2 separate regions of the Homo sapiens genome follow, and region 1 is linked to region 2. The links come from fine-mapping of genetic effects on gene expression. A gene starts in region 2. The other region holds a variant in brackets. All regions are shown on one strand. Distances are from middle to middle. Region 1 has its middle 45 kb from the start of NAF1. Region 2 holds the start of NAF1 (nuclear assembly factor 1 ribonucleoprotein).

The links. PIP is the estimated chance that this variant, and not a neighbour inherited with it, causes the effect.
Region 1: its variant is the best candidate, but not a certain one, in a credible set for the expression of NAF1 in tibial nerve (GTEx, PIP 0.63).

The regions. Positions count from the first base shown.
Region 1 is chr4:163,209,630-163,215,013 of GRCh38, forward strand. No RefSeq gene overlaps it. Among named protein-coding and RNA genes, the nearest start is that of NAF1, 45 kb to the left of the region's middle. The variant A/G (reference allele first, on the strand shown) is at 3,034.
Region 2 is chr4:163,164,637-163,170,020 of GRCh38, forward strand. It overlaps NAF1 (nuclear assembly factor 1 ribonucleoprotein), which reads right to left and starts at 2,254. Exons shown (of 8, transcript NM_138386.3): 1 at 1,727-2,254. The coding sequence starts at 2,091. RefSeq lists enhancers at 1,399-2,266, 1,758-1,837, 1,868-1,987, 2,008-2,207.

The DNA.
Region 1 (5,384 bases), 45 kb after region 2:
ATTCAGAGATTCAACTTCTTCCTGGTTTAGTCTTGGGAGAGTGTATGTGTCGAGGAATTTATCCATTTCTTCTAGATTTTCTAGTTTATTTGCATAGAGGTGTTTGTAGTATTCTCTGATGGTAGTTTGTATTTCTGTGGGATCGGTGGTGATATCCCCTTTATAATTTTTTATTGCATCTATTTGATTCTTCTCTCTTTTTTTCTTTATTAGTCTTGCTAGTGGTCTATCTATTTTGTTGATCCTTTCAAAAAACCAGCTCCTGGATTCATTAATTTTTTGAAGGGTTTTTTGTGTCTCTATTTCCTTCAGTTCTGCTCTGATTTTAGTTATTTCTTGCCTTCTGCTAGCTTTTGAATGTGTTTGCTCTTGCTTCTCTAGTTCTTTTAATTGTGATGTTAGGGTGTCAATTCTGGATCTTTCCTGCTTTCTCTTGTGGGCATTTAGTGCTATAAATTTCCCTCTACACACTGCTTTGAATGCATCCCAGAGATTCTGGTATGTTGTGTCTTTGTTCTCGTTGGTTTCAGAGAACATCTTTATTTCTGCCTTCATTTCGTTATGTACCCAGTAGTCATTCAGGAGCAGGTTGTTCAGTTTCCATGTAGTTGAGTGGTTTTGAGTGAGATTCTTAATCCTGAGTTCTAGTTTGATTGCACTGTGGTCTGAGAGATAGTTTGTTATAATTTCTGTTCTTTTACATTTGCTGAGGAGAGCTTTACTTCCAATATGTGGTCAATTTTGGAATAAGTGCGACGTGGTGCTGAGAAGAATGATTATTCTGTTGATTTGGGGTGGAGAGTTCTGTAGATGTCTATTAGGTCCACTTGGTGCAGAGCTGAGTTCAATTCCTGGGTATCCTTGTTGACTTTCTGTCTTGTCGATCTGTCTAATGTTGACAGTGGGGTGTTAAAGTCTCCCATTATTAATGTGTGGGAGTCTAAGTCTCTTTGTAGGTCACTCAGGACTTGCTTTATGAATCTGGGTGCTCCTGTATTGGGTGCATATATATTTAGGATAGTTAGCTCTTCTTGTTGAATTGATCCCTTTACCATTATGTAATGGCCTTCTTTGTCTCTTTTGATCTTTGTTGGTTTAAAGTCTGTTTTATCAGAGACTAGGATTGCAACCCCTGCCTTTTTTGTTTTCCATTTGCTTGGTAGATCTTCCTCCATCCTTTTATTTTGAGCCTATGTGTGTCTCTGCACGTGAGATGGGTTTCCTGAATACAGCACACTGATGGGTCTTGACTCTTTATCCAATTTGCCAGTCTGTGTCTTTTAATTGGAGCATTTAGTCCATTTACATTTAAAGTTAATATTGTTATGTGTGAATCTGATCCTGTCATGATGATGTTAGCTGGTTATTTTGCTCGTTAGTTGATGCAGTTTCTTCCTAGTCTCGATGGTCTTTACATTTTGGCATGATTTTGCAGCGGCTGGTACCGGTTGTTCCTTTCCATGTTTAGCACTTCCTTCAGGAGTTCTTTTAGGGCAGGCCTGGTGGTGACAAAATCGCTCAGCATTTGCTTGTCTGTAAAGTATTTTAGTTCTCCTTCACTTATGAAGCTTAGTTTGGCTGGATATGAAATTCTGGGTTGAAAATTCTTTTCTTTAAGAATGTTGAATATTGGCCCCCACTCTCTTCTGGCTTGTAGGGTTTCTGCTGAGATATCTGCTGTTAGTCTGATGGGCTTCCCTTTGAGGGTAACCCGACCTTTCTCTCTGGCTGCCCTTAACATTTTTTCCTCCATTTCAACTTTGGTGAATCTGACAATTATGTGTCTTGGAGTTGCTCTTCTCGAGGAGTATCTTTGTGGCGTTCTCCGTATTTCCTGAATCTGAACATTGGCCTGCCTTGCTAGATTGGGGAAGTTCTCCTGGATAATATCCTGCAGAGTGTTTTCCAACTTGGTTCCATTCTCCCTGTCACTTTCAGGTACACCAATCAGACGTAGATTTGGTCTTTTCACATAGTCCCATATTTCTTGGAGGCTTTGCTCATTTCTTTTTATTCTTTTTTCTCTAAACTTCCCTTCTCGCTTCATTTCATTCATTTCATCTTCCATTGCTGATACCCTTTCTTCCAGTTGATCGCATCGGCTCCTGAGGCTTCTGCATTCTTCTCGTAGTTCTCGAGCCTTGGTTTTCAGCTCCATCAGCTCCTTTAAGCACTTCTCTGTATTGGTTATTCTAGTTATACATTCTTCTAAATTTTTTTCAAAGTTTTCAACTTCTTTGCCTTTGGTTTGAATGTCCTCCCGTAGCTCAGAGTAATTTGATCGTCTGAAGCCTTCTTCTCTCAGCTCGTCAAAGTCGTTCTCCATCCGTCCAGCTTTGTTCCATTGCTGGTGAGGAACTGCGTTCCTTTGGAGGAGGAGAGGCGCTCTGCTTTTTAGAGTTTCCAGTTTTTCTGTTCTGTTTTTTCCCCATCTTTGTGGTTTTATCTACTTTTGGTCTTTGATGATGGTGATGTACAGATGGGTTTTTGGTGTGGATGTCCTTTCTGTTTGTTAGTTTTCCTTCTAACAGACAGGACCCTCAGCTGCAGGTCTGTTGGAGTACCCTGCCGTGTGAGGTGTCAGTGTGCCCCTGCTGGGGGGTGCCTCCCAGTTAGGCTGCTCGGGGGTCAGGGGTCAGGGACCCACTTGAGGAGGCAGTCTGCCCGTTCTCAGATCTCCAGCTGCGTACTGGGAGAACCACTGCTCTCTTCAAAGCTGTCAGACAGGGACATTTAAGTCTGCAGAGGTTACTGCTTTCTTTTTGTTTGTCTGTGCCCTGCCCCCAGAGGTGGAGCCTACAGAGGCAGGCAGGCCTCCTTGAGCTGTGGTGGGCTCCACCCAGTTCCAGCTTCCTGGCTGCTTTGTTTACCTAAGCAAGCCTGGGCAATGGCGGGCGCCCCTCCCCCAGCCTCACTGCCGCCTTGCAGTTTGATCTCAGACTGCTGTGCTAGCAATCAGCAAGACTCCGTGGGCGCAGGACCCTCCGAGCCAGGTGCGGGATATAATCTCGTCGTGCGCCGTTTTTTAAGCCC[A/G]TTGGAAAAGCGCAGTATTCGGGCGGGAGTGACCCGATTTTCCAGGTGCTGTCCATCACCCCTTTCTTTGACTAGGAAAGGGAACTCCCTGACCCCTTGCCCTTCCCGAGTGAGGCAATGCCTCACCCTGCTTCGGCTCGCGCACGGTGCGCGCACCCACTGACCTGCGCCCACTGTCTGGCACTCCCTAGTGAGATGAACCCGGTACCTCAGATGGAAATGCAGAAATCACCTGTATTCTGTGTCGCTCATGCTGGGAGCTGTAGATAGGAGCTGTTCCTATTCCGCCATCTTGGTTCCTCCCCCCACTTTTTTTTTGGGGGGGTCAGCGTCTCACACTGTCGCCTGGGATGGAGTGCAATGGCGCAACCTCAACTCACTGCAACCTCCACCTCCCGGGTTCATGTGATTCTCCTGCCTCAGCCTCCTGAGTAGCTGGGGTTACAGGTGCACACCACCACACCCGGCTAATTTTTTATATTTTTTAGTGGAGACAGGGTTTCACTGTGGTGGCCAGACTGGTCTCAAACTCCTGACCTTGTGATCCACCTGCCTCGGCCTCCCAAGGTGCTGGGATTACAGGCGTGCGCCACCACACCCAGCCTGATTTCTTTTGTATAATCGGTCAAAATCCCTATTTGATTCTCTTCCTCAAGAGTGCCACTCAAATAATAAGTGAGGTATTCGTATTTGTGTGGATCTTATTTTGTAGTTGTTATTCAGTTCCATTTCCATATGTATATTGTTATACCAACACCACATTATATTACTCTAGATTTATAAAAGTTATTGATAAATATGTGTGATCTATATATAATACATATATATGTATTATATATAATACACATAGATATATAGATACATATCTATCTCTACATATATCTGTGTATATATGCATATATATGTATGGATAGATATCTATATGTGTATATATAGGTATATATCTATATAAGTACACATGTGTATATATGTATAGATAGATATCTATATAATGTATATTATATCCATATAATACCCATAATATACATACATAAAGATATATATACACATGTATACATTTATATATGATACATACATATATATTATACAGAGATGATATATTTACATATATTTCTCTCTATATATATATACACACATATGTATTTTTATTTGAACTATTTTTTTTGTGGGTTTTTAGCTAAAAGTCTACTAGTTTGATTTTTTGTTTGTTTTGTTTGGAGATGGAGTCTTGCTCTGTCAACCACGTTGGAGTGCAGTGACATGATAACAGCTCACTGCAGCCTCCATCTCCAGAGCTCAAGGGATCCTTCCACCTCAGCCTCCTGAGTAGCTGGGACTACAGGTGTGCACCATCACATGCAGCTAATTTTTTAGTGTTGTGGAGAAAGGATCTCACTATGTTGCCCAGGCTGGTCTTGAAGTCCTTGCCTCAAATGATCCTCCTGCCTCAGCCTCTCAAAGTGCTGGGATTACAAGTCTGAGTCCCTGTGCCTAGTCCCTACTAGTCTGATTTTAATATAGCTACACAAACTTTCTTTTAGGTAATGTTTACATGGTATATCTTTTCGATCCTTTTTTCCTTATATTTTGAGTATTATATTTTATATGACTCTCTTATAAGCAGTATACAGTTGTCTTTGTTGTTGAGAAGTTGGTTCATGTTTATTTAATAACTGATATGTTTGGATTTAAATCTATCATTTTGCTATTTGTTAAGTATTCATTTTGTTTATTCTGAATTCCTTTTTCTCTCATTTAGGTCAGTCAGTTGCTCTAAATATACATGATTTAAGTTATCTTAGCAGGATCCCTTCACTAAAATACACATATTCTCAGAAGTATATAACTTTAGCAAATGTAAAACATAGCTTGAAAGAGGCAGCATGTAAAGTGAAAAGTTAAGGGTCTAAGGAAACCAGAATTGGAGAACCAAAGGGGTGCAGCTGTTAAGGAGAAAAATAAATCTTAAGAATAAGTTAGTGTCTATTTAATCCTAGTATTGGAGGGGAAGTTATAGCTGAAGAAGTGTTCAAGGATCATGGGTGTGAGGATTGAACACTGCGCATTCTCATTAGTTCCTACAGTCACCAGGTATTGGTATTAGTCAGTTTTGGCTGCACATGAAACAACCTTACAATCACCATATTAAATATAAGTATTTATTCTCACACTAAGACCATGTGGGTCAGCTTCTATGGCTCTACTTCTGAGGTGGCTCCACTCCATGAATGTTCATTCTGGAACTTAGAAACTAGGAGTAGTGGCTACTTTGGAAGAGATCCAAAACTTCCAGAGGAATAAGTGGAAATAGACAATGACATTTAAGATCTTAAGATCTGGAATAAAACATA
Region 2 (5,384 bases):
ATTTTCAAACCTTTGCCATAACCCAGATCCTCTTATTACAATACTCTCACATATCATACACCTGTCTGAATATAAGCAAGCATGTGACAAACCACTAAAAAAAGGGAATTCTGGGCATGGCACCTCTCTTAGTCACAACCACCAGATCGCTTAATTGCCAGATTGCTTAATGAGTTTCTTCTCAGGCTACAGACAACTTGGGAAATCCTCAGTTACGAAAGTATGTAGACCATTCTACTTTCTGAAAACTCACTTGGTCCTTATCTTCCACAGAAATTATCGTTAACAGCAACCACTGTCTCAGTTTAAATTTTGTTTGTTGGCTCCCCACTTGAAGCCCTTTTATATACTATTTTTAAGGGTTCCATCCTCACTTTCTCTTCTTTCGCTACTACTTTCATGGATAATCCCATACACATTAATGATTTCAGTCATCATCCATGTGAATTAACGCCTAAATCTTCAGCTATGACATCTCTAAACTCCATGTCCAATCTCTGACGGCATACTGGCCACCTTTGTACGAATGGCCTATACACCCACACTCATAGCAAGTTAAAACAAGAAAAAGTGCATTATACTAACTAAACCTGCTTCTTCAGTTTCCATTTGATTTCACTGCTGTTAACTGGCAAAAAGTTGTACCCCTTTTGACTTCTTCAAATATTTGGTATCCTCTGCCATCACCCACAGAGTCAGAAGTAGTATCCTGACACTAAGTTGGCCTATTATGACGCCATATCCCTTCTGCTTTCAAAACGTATCCCCAAATCATCTACCATTTACTTTTCTTTGCTAGTAAAATGAGCTCTGAAATCCCACAAGATGATTATACTGCAATCTTAGTACTGCCAAGAAATCCAACCTTGTTTACAGTTGTTACTTCCCCCTCCCAGTACATTTCATACCCTCTCCTTCTACTCAAATCCTTCAGCCTTCTTCACTTCCACTCTCCGCTGATGACTTCCCTGAAAACTAAACTTCTCACCTCCTCAACACGTGTCTATCTTGTTAACCTGTTCAGTACCCCACTCAACACACTCAACTATTTGTAGACAATGTTCAGTGTGGTTTAGTAACATCCCACATGCTGGAGTCCTCTCCAGCCCAGAGATTTCATATTTAAAAGACAGGTGTGGGGGCAAGGGGGAAAGGCTCTCACAAAACGTAAGAAGCATAAGATACTACTAAATAACACTGTTTGGCTACTTTCATAAACACGTGTTCCCTGCAAGGATTCTATAAATTAACGTAATCATCAAGAGCCAGCTTTGAAACACAAAAAATAATACTTTTCCTGATCCCCAATGTATGTGGTTCAAAAAACAAAGCCTAGATGTGATGATAAAAAAAAATCAGATCTGACACAAAACTCAACTATAACCACAAAAGTACAGCCTAAACTGAGTAGTTACGGAAATAACCTAAGATCCTCGGGTTTTCTAAAGTCTAACAAAAAATGATACGATCTATACATAGAACCCTTCAGGCCACCAAATTTAGGAAATAAGTCAGTACTAAGCTCAGATTCACAACGCGACCTGCTTTGAGAGGCAGCGAATAAGGGGCAGTCGGAGCCAATACTTCAACACGTGAGCCCGGAGCACCAACGACCTGCCCACCCTCCAGGGCCCACACAAGCAACCTCTAGGCTCCTAGGCCCCAGCCACCCCCGCCCGTCATACAAGACCTCTCCCCACAGCTCCGGGTCCCTTAGGCACCCGACCTGTCCGAGTCCGAATCCGAGTCCGAGGTCTCCAAGGAGTCCGGCGCCCGCGCAGGCTCTGCGGCTCCTGGGGAGGTGACGCAGTCTCCGCAGGCCGGCGATTCAGCCGGTGGCTGTGGCTGCGGCGCCGGGGTCCCGGCCGCGACGGCGTTCAGAACGGGCTGCAGAGGCTGCTCCCCGGCAGGCTTAACCTCCACGGTCTGCCCAGCGTCCGGGGACCCCTCAAACGACTGTAGCGGCGGCTGTGTCCCTGGCACAGGGGCAGAGCCCGGAGACGGAGCCGCCGGACCTTCCCCAACTCCAAAGTCGGTGCCATTGAATTTCAGAGTTTCCAGCTGAGCGGCGGCGGCCTCCACTACCTCCATCGCACCGCGCCAGAAACCGGGTCGGCCTCAGGATTGGGGCCCCTGGACAAGCTCACGGCTCTCTCCAGAAATAGAAAAACAACTTAGGCAACCGCAGCAACACTGCCTGGGCCCAACTTCCCGCGTTTCTCAGGTAACTACACGCGGAGGAGCCAAAAGACACGCCCCCGCCATTTACGCAGCAACGCTTTCCGAAGAGCGTGTGACGTATGTGGCGCGACGGCGCGACGGCGCTCGCGGGGGCAGGATACATGCGTCATATCTTCGAAAATCAGGATTAGGGGGTCGGGCGCCGTGGCTCACGCTCGTAATCCCAGCACTTTGGGAGACCGAGGTGGGCGGATCACAAGGTCAGGAGTTCACAGACCAGCCTGCCCAACATGGTGAAACCCCATCTCTACTAAAAATACAAAAATTAGCTGGGCATGGTGGCGCGTGCCTGTAATTCCCACTACTTGGGAGGCTGAGGCAGGAGAATCGCTTGAACCCAGCAGGCGGAAGTTGGAGTGAGCCGAGACCGCGCCACTGCACTCCAGCCTGGCGAGAAAGCGAGACTCCGTCTCAAAAAAAAATAATCAGGACTAGGGAGGCCCTAAATCGACCGTTTTCACTGCGTCATGTGAACCATTCAAGGCCTGAATGTCGGATTTTCCTATTGCTGCATGTGAACCAATTCTGCTTGAAGCGCCAAAATGAAGCAGGGATTATACAACAGGGGGGTGCCTGAAGAATGCTAAGTTCTGTACATCAGAAACTTGAGCCAGGAAGTCTTGACAAGACGCTAGTAACTTCATGAAAGTTAAATGAAGTTTATCCATCAATAGATCCATCTGTCGATAGATAGGGTATTAACCATTTTTTCAAAAATGTAACTACAACTATTCCATTTTCCTTTCTCCAAAGTACCCTCAAAGAGAGCAGTAATGGACAAAATTTTGCTGTGTTGTTCATGTTATGGTGATGTCTATATCATACTTAGCACTGTTTCGTAGTAGAGAGATGAGACTATGAGACTGAAATGTACTCACTTATTGTTGGAAACCACTAGTCTAAATTGTGGAGAAAGCAAGCAGAGTTCTTAGGACTGAGGAAGAGATCAGAATTTTCTGGTTTCCTATTAGGTCTTCAGTTTGAGGCATCAGTCCCTGTGTAGTAATAATAATCATTGATACCATTTGTTAAACATGCATATGTGCCAAGGACTGTGCTAAAGATTTTATAAATTATTCACTGAGAATTTAGTGTGTCATCTACAACAGTAGATCTTCATAGAAATGCAAGGCAAGTGTAATAAGAGTAAGGTTTTAAGAAGCTTACAATCTACTTGAAGTAGAGAAGGGCAATGCACAGGAGATAACTAGAAAAATATTTGAAATATGAAATAGAAAATCCAAGTGCAGCAGAAATGGGAAGTAGGATTGGTAGGCTATTTCATGGAAATCCTCCAAAGTGAAGAAGGACTTTAAACTTGGGATACGAACTTACTAGCACAATGATTAAGCAGAGCTCAGAGTTTTCAACTAAAAAGACCTGTGTTCAGGCCTCAGCTCTACCATTTTGTGTTTGGTGTTACTGACTTTGGGCAGTTAATCTAAATCCTAATTTCCTTATCTGTAAAATGGAGATAAAAATACTATCTCATTTAGTTCATGTGAGCACTAAGTAAGGCTTTATATAAGGGAGTGGCATGTCATACATTCAGTGTGCAAAAATACTTGGAAAATGGAACAATGCATGAACTCACGAATAAAATATTTAATTAACAATGATCTTGCAAAGACATGCAGTACAGATTTGAGAAGGGAAGACGTTTGAGCCAGAATTATTCCCCAGCCAGCCACTTTGTTGCATTTTTCCAGGAATTAGGTGATAAAAGTCTGAACTAGGCTTACAGTCAATGAAATAGAGTAAAGGACATCCCCAGCATCAGGGGAAGAATAAAAGTACTCTAAAATTTCTGGTCAAGGAAATTAGAAAGAAGTTGGTATTACCAATAAAAACGGAGAAGTTGGCCAGTCGCAGGGCCTCACGCCTGTAATTCCAGCATTTTGGGAGGCTGAGGTAGGCAGATCACCTGAGGCCGGGAGTTTGAGACCAGCCTGGCCAACATGACGAAAACCCATCTCTTCTAAAAATACAAAAACTTAGCTGGGCATGGTGGTGGGCACCTGTAATCCCAGCTACTTGGGAGGCTGAGGCAGGAGAATCGCTTGAACTCAGGAGGCAAAGGCTGCAGTGAGCCAAGATTGCACCATTGCACTCCAGCCTAGGCAACAAGAGGGAAACTCCCTCTCAAATTAATTAATTAATTAATTAAACGGAGAAGTTGGAAAGAGATGTGGGTATGTGAAGTTGAGTCTGAAGAAAAACTAGACAATTAAAAATGTAAATAGGCATTTAAAAATAAGAAACTGGAATTTGACAGAAAGGTTAAGACCAGAAGCCTAAGTTATGGGATAATTGAAATACTCATTTGTTCATTCAGTAATCATTTTCTTAACATTACGATATGCTGTGCACTGCATTATAAACTATGCATACAGGAAGATAAACACAGTCCCTACCCTTATGGAGTTAACAGTTCAGTAGAACAGACAAGTTGAAAACAAGCAGAAGGTACTATAGTAGAGAAATGTACCATGTAAATGCAAGAATGTATGAAATGGGAAAACTAAAGACAGAGAAGATACTTGGAAAATTAAGGAAAATGTACTATAAGAGATATATCGTGGCTATAAGAGTAATTATAGCCATAAGGCTCACTCAAGTGTCTTGAGGGGCTGACACTAAATGTATTTATCAATATAATACTAACTGGCCCTGGAGATTTCCACCCCTGGCCCAGTGATTTCCAGGAGACCAGGCCACTTCAGCACAGATGCAACTTTCATGAACCTTAAAGCTTACCCTTGTAAGAATAGCTTCGACTCCATTTATGAGAGAAACATCTGATAACTGACCAAGCTGAATACAGGTTTTAAAAAGGGGGAAGAAACCCCCAACACTGAGAACAGTCTCTGGTTGGAGGCTCTCTTGATCATCCGAGCCCTGACTATCTGGTCTATACCCCCAGCCTCTTCCCACTATCTTTTAAGAGCGATGCCAGAATAAACTACTAAAGCATGAGACAGTCTCTAAGACTCATCTTTGACTTGAATAGAACTGAATGGGAGAAGTCACCTCTAGGAAAGCTGGTTAAACAGGACCACCCAACCACTGCCTCACTGACAATGACAAAAGGCTTTACAATGCGTGTGATACTTGAGCTGGACTTTTAAAGAGAACCATGAATT